Linked DNA regions of Homo sapiens: region 1 is linked to region 2. The links come from fine-mapping of genetic effects on gene expression. A gene starts in region 2. The other region holds a variant in brackets. All regions are shown on one strand. Distances are between the middles of the regions.

Region 1 (5,370 bases), 150 kb before region 2:
GCCTGGACTCCACCCAAGCCAAACAGCCGAGGTGAAATGGTTGGGCAGAGCAAACAGGCTTTTGCCAGGAGCCTTGCTTTACTTCCCCTTGGACAAATCACACTGGGCTTAAAGCCTCCACTGGAATTCCTCCTGCTGCTGTGAGGCCCAGAGTGGCCACATCCCCTGCCTGATGGGGTCTTGAGTCACTAGCTCTCTCTGGGTTTTACCTTGACCTAGTGAATGTTTTTCTAAGAATATTTTATTATTGAGGTATCATTTTCATATAATAGTGAAGGGGTGGGTTGCCCCTCCACACCTGTGGGTGTTTCTCATTAGGTGGAACAAGAGACTTGGAAAAGAAAGAGACACAGAGACAAAGTAGAGAGAAAGAAAAAAGGGGGCCCAGGGGACCAGCGTTCAGCATACGGAAGATCCCACCAGCCTCTGAGTTCCCTTAGTATTTATTGATCATTCTTGGGTGTTTCTCGGAGAGGGGGATGTGGCAGGGTCATAGGATAATAGTGGAGAGAAGGTCAGCAGGTAAACACGTGAACAATGGTCTCTGCATCATGAACAAGGTAAAGAATTAAGTGCTGTGCTTTAGATATACATACACATAAACATCTCAATGCCTTAAAAAGCAGTATTGCTGCCCTCATGTCCCACCTCCAGCCCTAAGGCGGTTTTCCCCTATCTCAGTAGATGGACTATACAATCGGGTTTTACACCAAGACATTCCATTGCCCAGGGACGAGCAGGAGACAGATGCCTTCCTCTTGTCTCAACTGCAAAGAGGCGTTCTTTCCTCTTTTACTAATCCTCCTCAGCACAGACCCTTTATGGGTGTCGGGCTGGGGGATGGTCAGGTCTTTCCCTTCCCATGAGGCCATATCTCAGGCTATCACATGGGGAGAAACCTTGGACAATACCTGGCTTTCCTAGGCAGAGGTCCCTGCGGCCTTCCCCAGTGTTTTGTGTCCCTGGATACTTGAGATTAGGGAGTGGTGATGACTCTTAAGGAGCATGCTGCCTTCAAGCATCTGTTTAACAAAGCACATCTTGCACAGCCCTTAATCCATTTAACCCTGAGTTGACACAGCACATGTTTCAAGGAGCACAGAGTTGGGGGTAAGGTTACAGATTAACAGAATCTCAAGGCAGAAGAATTTTTCTTAGTACAGAACAAAATGGAGTCTCCTATGTCTACTTCTTTCTACACAGACACAGTAACAATCTGATCTCTCTTTTCCTCACATAATAGGACACACAGATCTTAGGTGTACAGTTCAAATCATTTTGGCAAATGCATGCACCCATGTGGCTCACACCCCCATCAAAATAGAGAACATTGCTATTACCCCAGAAAACTCTGAGAGTACCCTGCCCCTGGACTCTAGCAGCCCCTATCTGATGTCCGTCATGACGTATTACTGTCACCCGTTCTGGAACATTATGTAAATGGCATCATCCAGTGTCTGCTCTTGTGTGTCTGGTCTTCAGCTAAGCATGATGTTTGTGAGATTCATGCAGGTGGATGCATGCAGCTCATTCCTTTTCATTGTTGAATAGTAATCAATTATTTCAACATACCACACTTTGTTTCTTCATTTGCCTGTTGATATTCCCCTGGGCCGTTTCCTCTTTGGAGCTTTAATGAATAAGTCTTCTGTGTCCATTCTTGTGCAAGGCTTTTATAGGCATATATTTTTATTTCTTTTGGATGAATATCTAAAGGCAGAATGGCTGGGTCATATGTCATGTGAATGTTTAACTTTATAAGAACCTACCAACCAGTTATAACCGGTTATAAGAACCTACTAATGGCCGGGCGCGGTGCCTCACGCCTGTAATCCCAGCACTTTGGGAGGCTGAGGTGGGCGGATCACGAGGTCAGCATATCGAGACCATCCTGGCTAACACAGTGAAACCACGTCTCTACTAAAAATACAAAAAAATTAGCTGGGCGTGGTGGCGGGCGCCTGTAGTCCGAGCTGCTCGGGAGGCTGAGGCAGGAGAATGGTGTGAACCTGGTAAGCAGAGCTTGCAGTGAGCTGAGATGGTGCCACTGCACTCCAGCCTGGGCGACAGAGCGAAACTCCGTCTCCAAAAAAAAAAAACCTACCAACATGGCTGTAACATTTTACTCTCCCATTAGCAGTGTGTGAGGATTCCAGTTGCTCCACATCCATGCTAGCACTTGGTACTGTCCGTAATTTTAATATTAACTGTTCTGGGGGGAGTACTGCTGTCCTATTATGCTGTTGTCATTTTTTGAACAGATAGGGTCTCACTAAGTTGCCCAGGCTGGACTCAAACTCCTGAGCTCAAGTGATTCTCCCACCTCAGCTTCGGAGTAGCTGGAACTACAGGTGCATGCCACCACACCTGGCTCCATGGAGTTTTAATGTGCATCACCCTGAGTGAGGCAGTGAATTTTAAAGGAGCCTCCAAGAATCCTCCTGCCCAGGCCAGCCTGCCTCCCCTCCCAAGCACCCTGTTGCCTGGCATGCTGCATAGAGAACCAACGGGACTCCTTCCTGAGGACTCACCTGTGAGCCTGGACGTGCAAGGCAGCGCTACGGATACAGGTTCCTCGCCCAGAGGTCCACACTCCAGGGTAGTGAACGGCCAACTCTTTCTGTAAAGAGCAGCCGGTAAATATTTCAGGCTTTGCAGGCCATGCAGTCTCTGTTTTGGCTGCTCACCTCTGCTGCCGAAGAGTGACAGAAACTTAGACAACTGTAAATGAATGAGAGAAGCTGTGTCCCAACTTGATTTATGGACACTGAAATTCAAATTTCATATCATTTTAACACCATGATTACTTGGATTTTTTTTTCAATCATTTAAAAATGTAAAAGGTATTCCTAGCTTGAGAGCCGTACAAAAACAGGCAGGGGATCAGATCCAGAGGCTCCTGTGCTCAGTGCCCCGTTTTAGGCAGGAAGAGCAGCCAGCTCGGGGCACTTCTGCACTAGGCAGGCTCTCAGGAGCGGCTTCGCAGAGAACCAGGGC[C/G]GGCCACACGGAGCTCCAGCATCCTGCCTGCTCCAGGAGGCAGCTTCCTCAGGATGAGTCCAGGTAGGGACCCACACCACTCCCAAGGGAAACACCGAAGGGCCAGAGGAGGGAGACAGCCAGGCTGGGAAGGGCTTGAGAGTGCCCGATTGGTGTCCACAGCTCCTCCCTGCCCAGCAGGCAGCTCCCAAGCTCCCTGATTACGGGCTTCCTCTGTCTCCCTCCGGCCTCCCTGACATCAGTACTGCTCCCTGCTCGCCTGGTCCCTTTGGAATCCACACATCAGGATGCCCACTGGTTTTGGCCCAGTGTTTGCCTTCACCCTGGTTACCTCCTCAAGTCTGTCTTTGCTCTGCCCATGCCCAGCCTGAGGACCTGCCAGGAAGGGGTCTGGGTTGGGGGTGTAGGATTCTTGTCTTTTTTGTGAGGTAGTGGTTTGCAGGAAGGGTGCCGGGCTCAGACCTCCATCTGGGGAGTGGAGTCTGCAGCCTGTGGAGGCTCTGAGGAGGGCCCAGGAGGCAGGAGGACCTGTGTGGAGTCTACTGCAGGGCCCCCAGCAACAGGACCCCAAGAGCAGTAGCCACAGGTTGGAAGAGGGATGTGCATCCCCACAAGGAACAAAACACAATGGCTGGGCGCGGTGGCTCATGCCTGTAATCCCTGCACTTTGGGAGGCTGAGGTGGGTGGATCACCTGAGGTCAGGAGTTTGAGACCAGCCTGGCCAACATGATGAAACCCCGTCTCTACTAAAAATACAAAAAATTAGCCAGGTGCAGTGGTGGGTGCCTGCAATTCCAGCTACTCAGGAAGCTGAGGCAGGAGAACCGCTTGAACCTGGGAGGTGGAGGTCGCAATGAGCCTAGATCATGCCAAAAAAAAAAAAAATGCAAGGCAAGTCCTGAGCCGGTGGCCCCCGGCCTCCTCCTGGGAAGACTGGCTGCTGGGCAGATTCCTTGTAGCTTGTGGAGAAGGCCTGGGTGTCGCTGGTACCACTGGCCTTAACGAAGGACCTAGAGCCCTGTTGGGTGTGGGGAGGGCCAGGAGGCATTAGATAAGGTAGGGAGGAAGATGGTGGACGGCCCATGACCGTGGGATGTGGGACCCCGCAGGCCCATGGCCCAGGTCCAGGGAGGTCTGTCACACCCACAGATGCTGCCCACAGGTGGTGGTTGCCAAGTGTGCCCATAGTACACTGTCACACTTGCATACACCAGACTGCAATGAAGAGCTTCTCCAGACCCCACTCCTCACAGCCCCTCCAGTTGCATGCAGCGGGAGGTTCAGCCACTGTCCTTCCTAACAGGGTAGAGGTCTGACGCCTGAGGGCTTTGGGGAACAGGATGTGCTCTTTTGGGCTGGTCCCTCACACAGCATTACTCATCCATGTGGGAGAGCGAAGTCGTAGGTGACTCATCCTTGTGTTGGTGTGAATATGCCACAGTGTATTTATCCATTCCAGTGATGACAGACGTTTGCATCATTTCCAGTTTGGGACTGTTCTGAATAGGGCTGTTCTGAACGTTCTTGTACTTGCCTTGGGGTGAGCATAAGTATTCATTTCTGTTGGGTGTTTTCTTTGGAGTAGAATTGCTGGGTCATAGGGAGGCATTTGTTCAGTGAACACTGCCAGTTTTTCAAAGGGATTGTACTAACCTATAAGGAGTTGTGTTGATGTGGAAACTGAAGGCGCTGAGAAGCACATTAGGGTTAGTGGGTGACATCAGGGACACCCCCAAACTGATATTGAGGGGGTCCAACTTGAGGTGTTCAGGACCATTTCACAGGTGTCCCAAAGGACAGGGGCTCCAGCTGACACTGTCAGTCCTGACAAGAAAGGACTGAAATAGAATCTCCGGCATTTGCTGTAGGATTTGGATTTGAGGGGCTGTGAAAGGGGAGAATATTGGAAATGCCAGGCTGGGAGTCTGGAGATGGAGAGCAGCATGCTTTGATGCAACTGTGGGCCGTAGTGACACAGGCTGAGGAAGGAGTCAGAGCCCAGGCAGTCTGGCATGCTGGGCAAGTCCCACCGGTTCAGAGAAGGGGCAAGGGTTTGAATGCCTTCCCCTCCAGAACTCGTGTTGAATTTCGATTGCTGGTGTAATGGTATTGGGAGGTGGCGCCTTTAAGAGGCGATTAAGCCATGAGAGCTGCACCCTTATGGTGGGTTTAATGCCTTACTGAGAGGGCTTTGGGAGTGGGTTCTCTCTTGGCTTTTCACCTTCTGCCATGTAAGCATGCAGCCTTCCTCCCCTCCGGAGGACGCACCGTGCAAAAGACACCATGGAAGAAGCAAAGAGCCTCACCAGGCCCCAAACCTGCCGGCATCTTGACTGCACACTGAGAAGGACACTCCATCCTTAGACTTTTCA
Region 2 (5,370 bases):
TCTACTAAAACTACAAAAGTTAGCCAGGCACGGTGACGGGCGCCTGTAATCCCAGCTACTCAGGAGGCTGGGGCAGGAGAATTGCTTGAACCTGGGAGGTGGAGGTTGCAGTGAGCCGAGATTGCCACTGCACTCCAGCCTGGGCGACAAAGCGAGACTCCTTCTCAAAAAAAAAAAAAAAAAAAAATCCAATCCTTCATCCTACAAAAAAAAAGAGAAGAGGGATGGATGATTCAAAATTGGCTAAACACTGAAAACTTTTAAGTGATGGACACATGAAGAAGGCTCATTAGATTGTCTTCTCTACTTCCACGTATGTCGACAATAAAGAGTTTAAAAAATGTGCGGAAGGATCCAAAGAAGGATCATAAAAGACACAAACGAGCCGGCTCTGTGGCGCAATGGATATCTGTTCTATGGATATTTGTTCATTCAACAAGTATTTTCTGCTACCTACTACGTGCCAGGTACTGGAGATACTTAAGTGGAGAAAACAAAGCTCCTGTTCTCATGGCGCTTCCATTCTGGTTGCGGGGGAGGCACACGAGCAAAAATTACAATCTCGAGTGATAACAAGGTCGACAGGAGTGGGCTGGTCTAAGAAGGCCTCAGTGAGGAGGAGGTGATGGTGGCGCAGAGCCTGAGCGAGGAAGAGAAGAAAGCTCAAGGATGTCTGAGACAGCCAGCTGGGAAGGAAGACAACCTAACAAATTTGGTCTTCTTTCCCTTTGTTTTGCTTTTTACCCCTAACAGCCTTTTGCTTATCCAAAGGATATGGACACCACTGGAATGTCTCTCTTTGTCCTGACACGAAAATAAAAATTAATCGGGTAATTTTAATACAGTACATTCTTCAAGAAGGTGCCAGGTCGCCGCTGTTTCCCCAAACGTTGTGTAAAACAATTTGATTTTTTCTTTTTTTTTTTTTTTTTTGAGACGGAGTTCCGTTCTTGTTGTCCAGGCTGGAGTGCACTGGTGCGATCTCGGTTCGGCGAGATCTTGGCTCACCGCAACCTCCGCCTCCCAGATTCAAGCGATTCTCCCGCCTCAGCCTCCCGAGTAGCTGGGATTACAGGCATATGCGCCACCACGCCCGGCTAATTTTGTATTTTTAGTACAGACGGGGTTTCTCCATGTTGGTCAAGCTGGTCTCGAACTCCTGACCTCTGATAATCTGCCCGCCTCGGTCTCCCAGAGTGCTGGCATTACAGGCGTGAGCCACCGCGCCCGGCAATTTGATTTTTTCGAAGGAAGAATTTTCCAATTTATCTAAGCGTTATGCCATGTCTGTTAATAAAATTGTATTAAAGTTAAATCATGAGTTTTTAATGCAGATAAATCTTTCCATAGCAAAGAGAACAGATTAGTTTCACAAAAGATATTGATCAGATGCTACATAATTTTACACATAAAGACACAAAACTATCAGTCTCCGCCCTTCTGTCAAACCATCGACTTAGAAGTGTCTATAGTTTAATTTCATGATTTTTTTAAGCAATGAAGTTGAAATTCTACTTTTCCTTAGGAGCGATACGCATATTTTACACTCAAGTGGCCAGCGTCAACTAAGGGCATTCCAGATGGTCAAAAAAGAAGTGCCTCTGCTACAACGCCTGAGATCATCATATAGTAACTTCTTCAAACCACCACGAAGTAGCAAGGCTTCAAAGCTGTCAGGAATGCTACGTTCTACAACAGCCAGATAATTAGGAAACCAGCAGATGGGAGGAGAAATCTGTCCCTATGAAACACGTTCCCATCTCAGTTTTGAAAGTGGCTTTATATAAACGCATTCATCTTCTACCCAATAACCCAAAGGTTATTGAACGCCAATAACCAAACGACTCAGGACTGCGAGATGATTCCCAAGGAGGCGAACTTGTGCGGACAGATTTCAAGTACCACGAACCATCACCAGCAGAGCGAAGGGCAGGTTTCCCTCCGACGGCTGCGATGCTCCGAGTCCCTCCTTCCCCTAGCACCCCGCCGCCCACTGAGCCCTTCCCCAAAGGTCCCCGAGTTCTGAGCGACGCACGCCCCCGACCCTAGTTACCGGGGAGAGCCGCCGAGGGCCCAAGGCGCCAGTAAGGCTCCGCGCACGCAGCCCAGCCCGAGGGGCGCCCGCCCGGGCGCTCGGTGTGGGGCCTGATGCAGAGCAGGAGGAGGAGGTCCGAGTGGGCCCCAGCGCTCTCAGGGTCTGGCGCCGGCCCCTCTGCCTCCCGCCTCTGCTGTGCCTGGCGTCCAGGGATCTTCCAAGGACTCCCCACCCCCTACCCTGCTCTCCCACGCGGGGTCATGACTTCGGGCGGCGCCAAGCCCCCAGCGTAAGGGTCCCCCCGGCTTCCCCGGGAAAGGGTCGGGGTGCAAGGCTAGGCCAGGAGTGCCTGGCGAGAGGGCCGGAGCAGGACACAGGGGGTCAGCGGCAGGGCAGGGCGCTCCCGCCGCGGTGCCTGGGGAAGGGAGCGGGGGTGGGGCTGCCGCGGGCCAAATGCGGGACACAGGCGCGGACGGGGGCGGCCGCGGATCGGGCGGACGGCCACTCTGGGAGGGGCTGGGAGGTACCGCGGCCCCCTGCGGGACGCACCTGCGCAAAGTGAGGGACCGGCCCCCCCCCCCCCCCCGCTCCGCGCGAAGCCTCACCTGCCCAGCGCCCGCTTCATTCCCGCGTCGGCTGCGCAGCGCGGCTCAGCCGCCGCCGGGCCCGTCAGGCGTAGGTTCTGCTTCAGGCGGCAGTCGGCGTCCAGCGCCGCGGCGGCCGAGCCGGAGGAGGACGAGCCCGCGGCGGCGCAGCGCTCATGCTCCAAGGCGACGGGCTCGGTCCGCTTCCTCATCCCGCGGCCGACAGGGCCAGCCGCCGACGGCGCCCGCTGGCCTGCGCCGCAGTGCCGCCGCTCACAGCCGCCGCCACCCAGAGCCCGGAGCCCGGAACCCGCCGCTCCTCACATCCCAGCCCAGGCCGCTGCGCCGGCTACGAACCAGCGGCGGGGGCCCGCCAGCCAGGCCGGCCAATCAGCGCCGGGCTCCCGCCGGCTCTGCCCTACCCCCCTCCCCCGGCCCCGCCCCGGCCACCTCCTCTCTAGTTCCAAGGAGCGCGCGCCCAGCATCCCTGGCGCCACCCGCAGCCATTTTGTGGGAGGGTGGGCGAAGCTGCAGCGGCGCGTCATCTGCAGGGCAGGGCTCTGGGCTCCATCCGCAGGCTGCAGCTGTGCTCGCCCGGGCGCTCGGTGTGAGGAGCACCCGCTCCCGGTCGTGCCCGAAAGGGGTGGCCCAGCGAGGCAGAGCCGCAGCGCTGGGCTCCTCGTGCTTCTGTGAACGGAAAACCAGAGGTAGCAAATAGCAGTTCCGTTCTCGTGATTCTTAATTCTTTTTCCACAAGGACATTACCTTTAAAAGTATGCTTTCCGGTCGTCAGTTTTTAATTTGAAGTAAATGTATATACTCAGTGTTTACTTTTGGGCCGAACATCAGGAAATGAACTGCTTGAAAAATTTACTTTTTAAAAACCTGTGTTAGATTTTAGATTTTTATAAAGCAATTAAGACTACCTGATGGGAGGAAAATCCATTTCAAAGATAAATTCGCCCTTATGAAACCCAAATTTAGTACTAATTCAACCCATCCTAGAAAGAGAAAAGGAAAGAATAAAGGGCTGTTTCACAAATTTAGTTTTATAACTTTGGCTTTCTTCAATATGGCATTAGTTTTACAGATGATCTATAACAAAGAGAGATATTTGCTTATTCCAAAGTAACGTTAGAAATTTCAGCATTTGTCACTTTGAAAACTATTGGCAATTGATAAAGGTCAATTGGAAATGCGTTTAGAAATTCAACAGCTTTTTATATTAGTTTTTTCTTTTTTTTTTTTTTTTTTTTTGAGACGGAGTCTCGCTCTCGCCCAGGCTGGAGTGCAGTGGCGCGATCTCGGCTCACTGCAAACTCCGCCTCCCAGGTTCACGCCAGTCTCCTGCCTCAGCCTCCCAAGTAGCTGGGACTACAGGCGCCGGCTACCATGCCCGGCTAATTTTTTTGTATTTTTAGTAGAGACAGGGTTTCACTGTGTAGCCAGGATGGTCTCGATCTCTCGATCCCGTGATCCGCCCGCCTCGGCCTCCCAAAGTGCTGGGATTACAGGCATGAGCCACCGCGCCCGGCTGCTTTTTAAATTAGTTTTGTAATGATACTTTGAAATTGCAAAATAATTTATTGACCATATTACTAAGTGTTACAGCCTGCATTCATAATTGTGTCAATATCTCCAGATATACTTTTTAAAAACATTATGGGCCGAGCTCAGTGGCTCATGCCTGTAATCTCAGCACTTTGGGAGGCGGAGGTGGGTGGATCATTTAAGCACAGGAGATGGAGGCCAGATCAGCCTGGCCAGCATGGTGAAACTCCGTCTCTACTAAAAATACAAAAATTAGCCGGGTGTGGTGGCACAAGCCTGGGTGACAGAGCAAGACTCTGTTTAAAAAAAAAAAAAAAAAAAAGGCTGGGCGAGGTGTCTCACGCCTGTGAGCCCAGCACTTTGGGAGGCCGAGGCGGGCGGATCACGAGGTCAGGAGATTGAGGCTATCCTGGCCAATGTAGTGAAACCCCGTCTCTACTAAAAACACAAAAATTAGCCAGGTATGGTGGCACAACCCTATAATCCCAGCTAATTGGGAGGCTGAGGCAGGAGAATCGCTTGAACTTGGGAGGCGGAGGTTGCAGTGAGCTGAGATCACACCATTGCACCCCAGTCTTGGGGACAAAAGCAAACTTCTGTCTCAAAAAAAAAAAAAAAAATTAGCTGGGCATGGTGGCGCGTGCCTGTATTCCCAGCTACTTGGGAAGCTGAGGCAGGAGAATCGCTTGAACCAGGGAGTCGGAGGTTGTGGTGAGCCGAAATTGTGCCACTGCACTCCAGCCTGGCGACAGAGGGAGACTCCTCTCAAAAACAAACAAACAAAAAAATTAGCTGGGTGTGGTGGCGCACGCCTGTAATCCCATCTACTTGGGAGGCTGAGGCAGGAGAATTGCTTGAACCCGGGATGCTGGGATTCGGAGGTTGCAGTGAGCCGAGATTGCACCACTGCACTCTAGCCTGGGTGACAGAGCAGGACTCCATCTCAAAATAAACAAACAAACATACTATGGAATGTAAATTATAAATTCTTTATAGTGATGTAGTAACACATCCTGGAGAGATTGGAAATCTAGGAAATAACTAAAACGTAAAAAAAAAAAAAGAGGTTTTGACTCTATCGCTCACTTCAATTAAAAAAACAACAACAACAAAAAAAAAACAGCCAGGCGCGGTGGCTCATGCCTGTAATCCCAGCACATTGGGAGGCCGAGGCGGGCGGATCACAAGGTCAGGAGATCA

Evidence for each region. PIP is the estimated chance that this variant, and not a neighbour inherited with it, causes the effect.
Region 1: its variant is the best candidate, but not a certain one, in a credible set for the expression of ABHD12 in monocytes (TOPMed, PIP 0.57).

What each region holds. Positions count from the first base shown.
Region 1 is chr20:25,233,566-25,238,935 of GRCh38, forward strand. It overlaps LOC105372579 (a long non-coding RNA gene), which reads right to left. Exons shown (of 3, transcript XR_001754564.3): 1 at 1,573-5,370. Among named protein-coding and RNA genes, the nearest start is that of PYGB, 12 kb to the right of the region's middle. RefSeq lists enhancers at 3,762-4,538, 3,863-5,062, 4,268-4,562. The variant C/G (reference allele first, on the strand shown) is at 2,998.
Region 2 is chr20:25,387,873-25,393,242 of GRCh38, forward strand. It overlaps ABHD12 (abhydrolase domain containing 12, lysophospholipase), which reads right to left and starts at 2,963. Exons shown (of 13, transcript NM_001042472.3): 1 at 2,641-2,963. The coding sequence starts at 2,831. RefSeq lists silencers at 2,053-2,212, 2,383-2,542, 2,583-2,632, 2,673-3,092.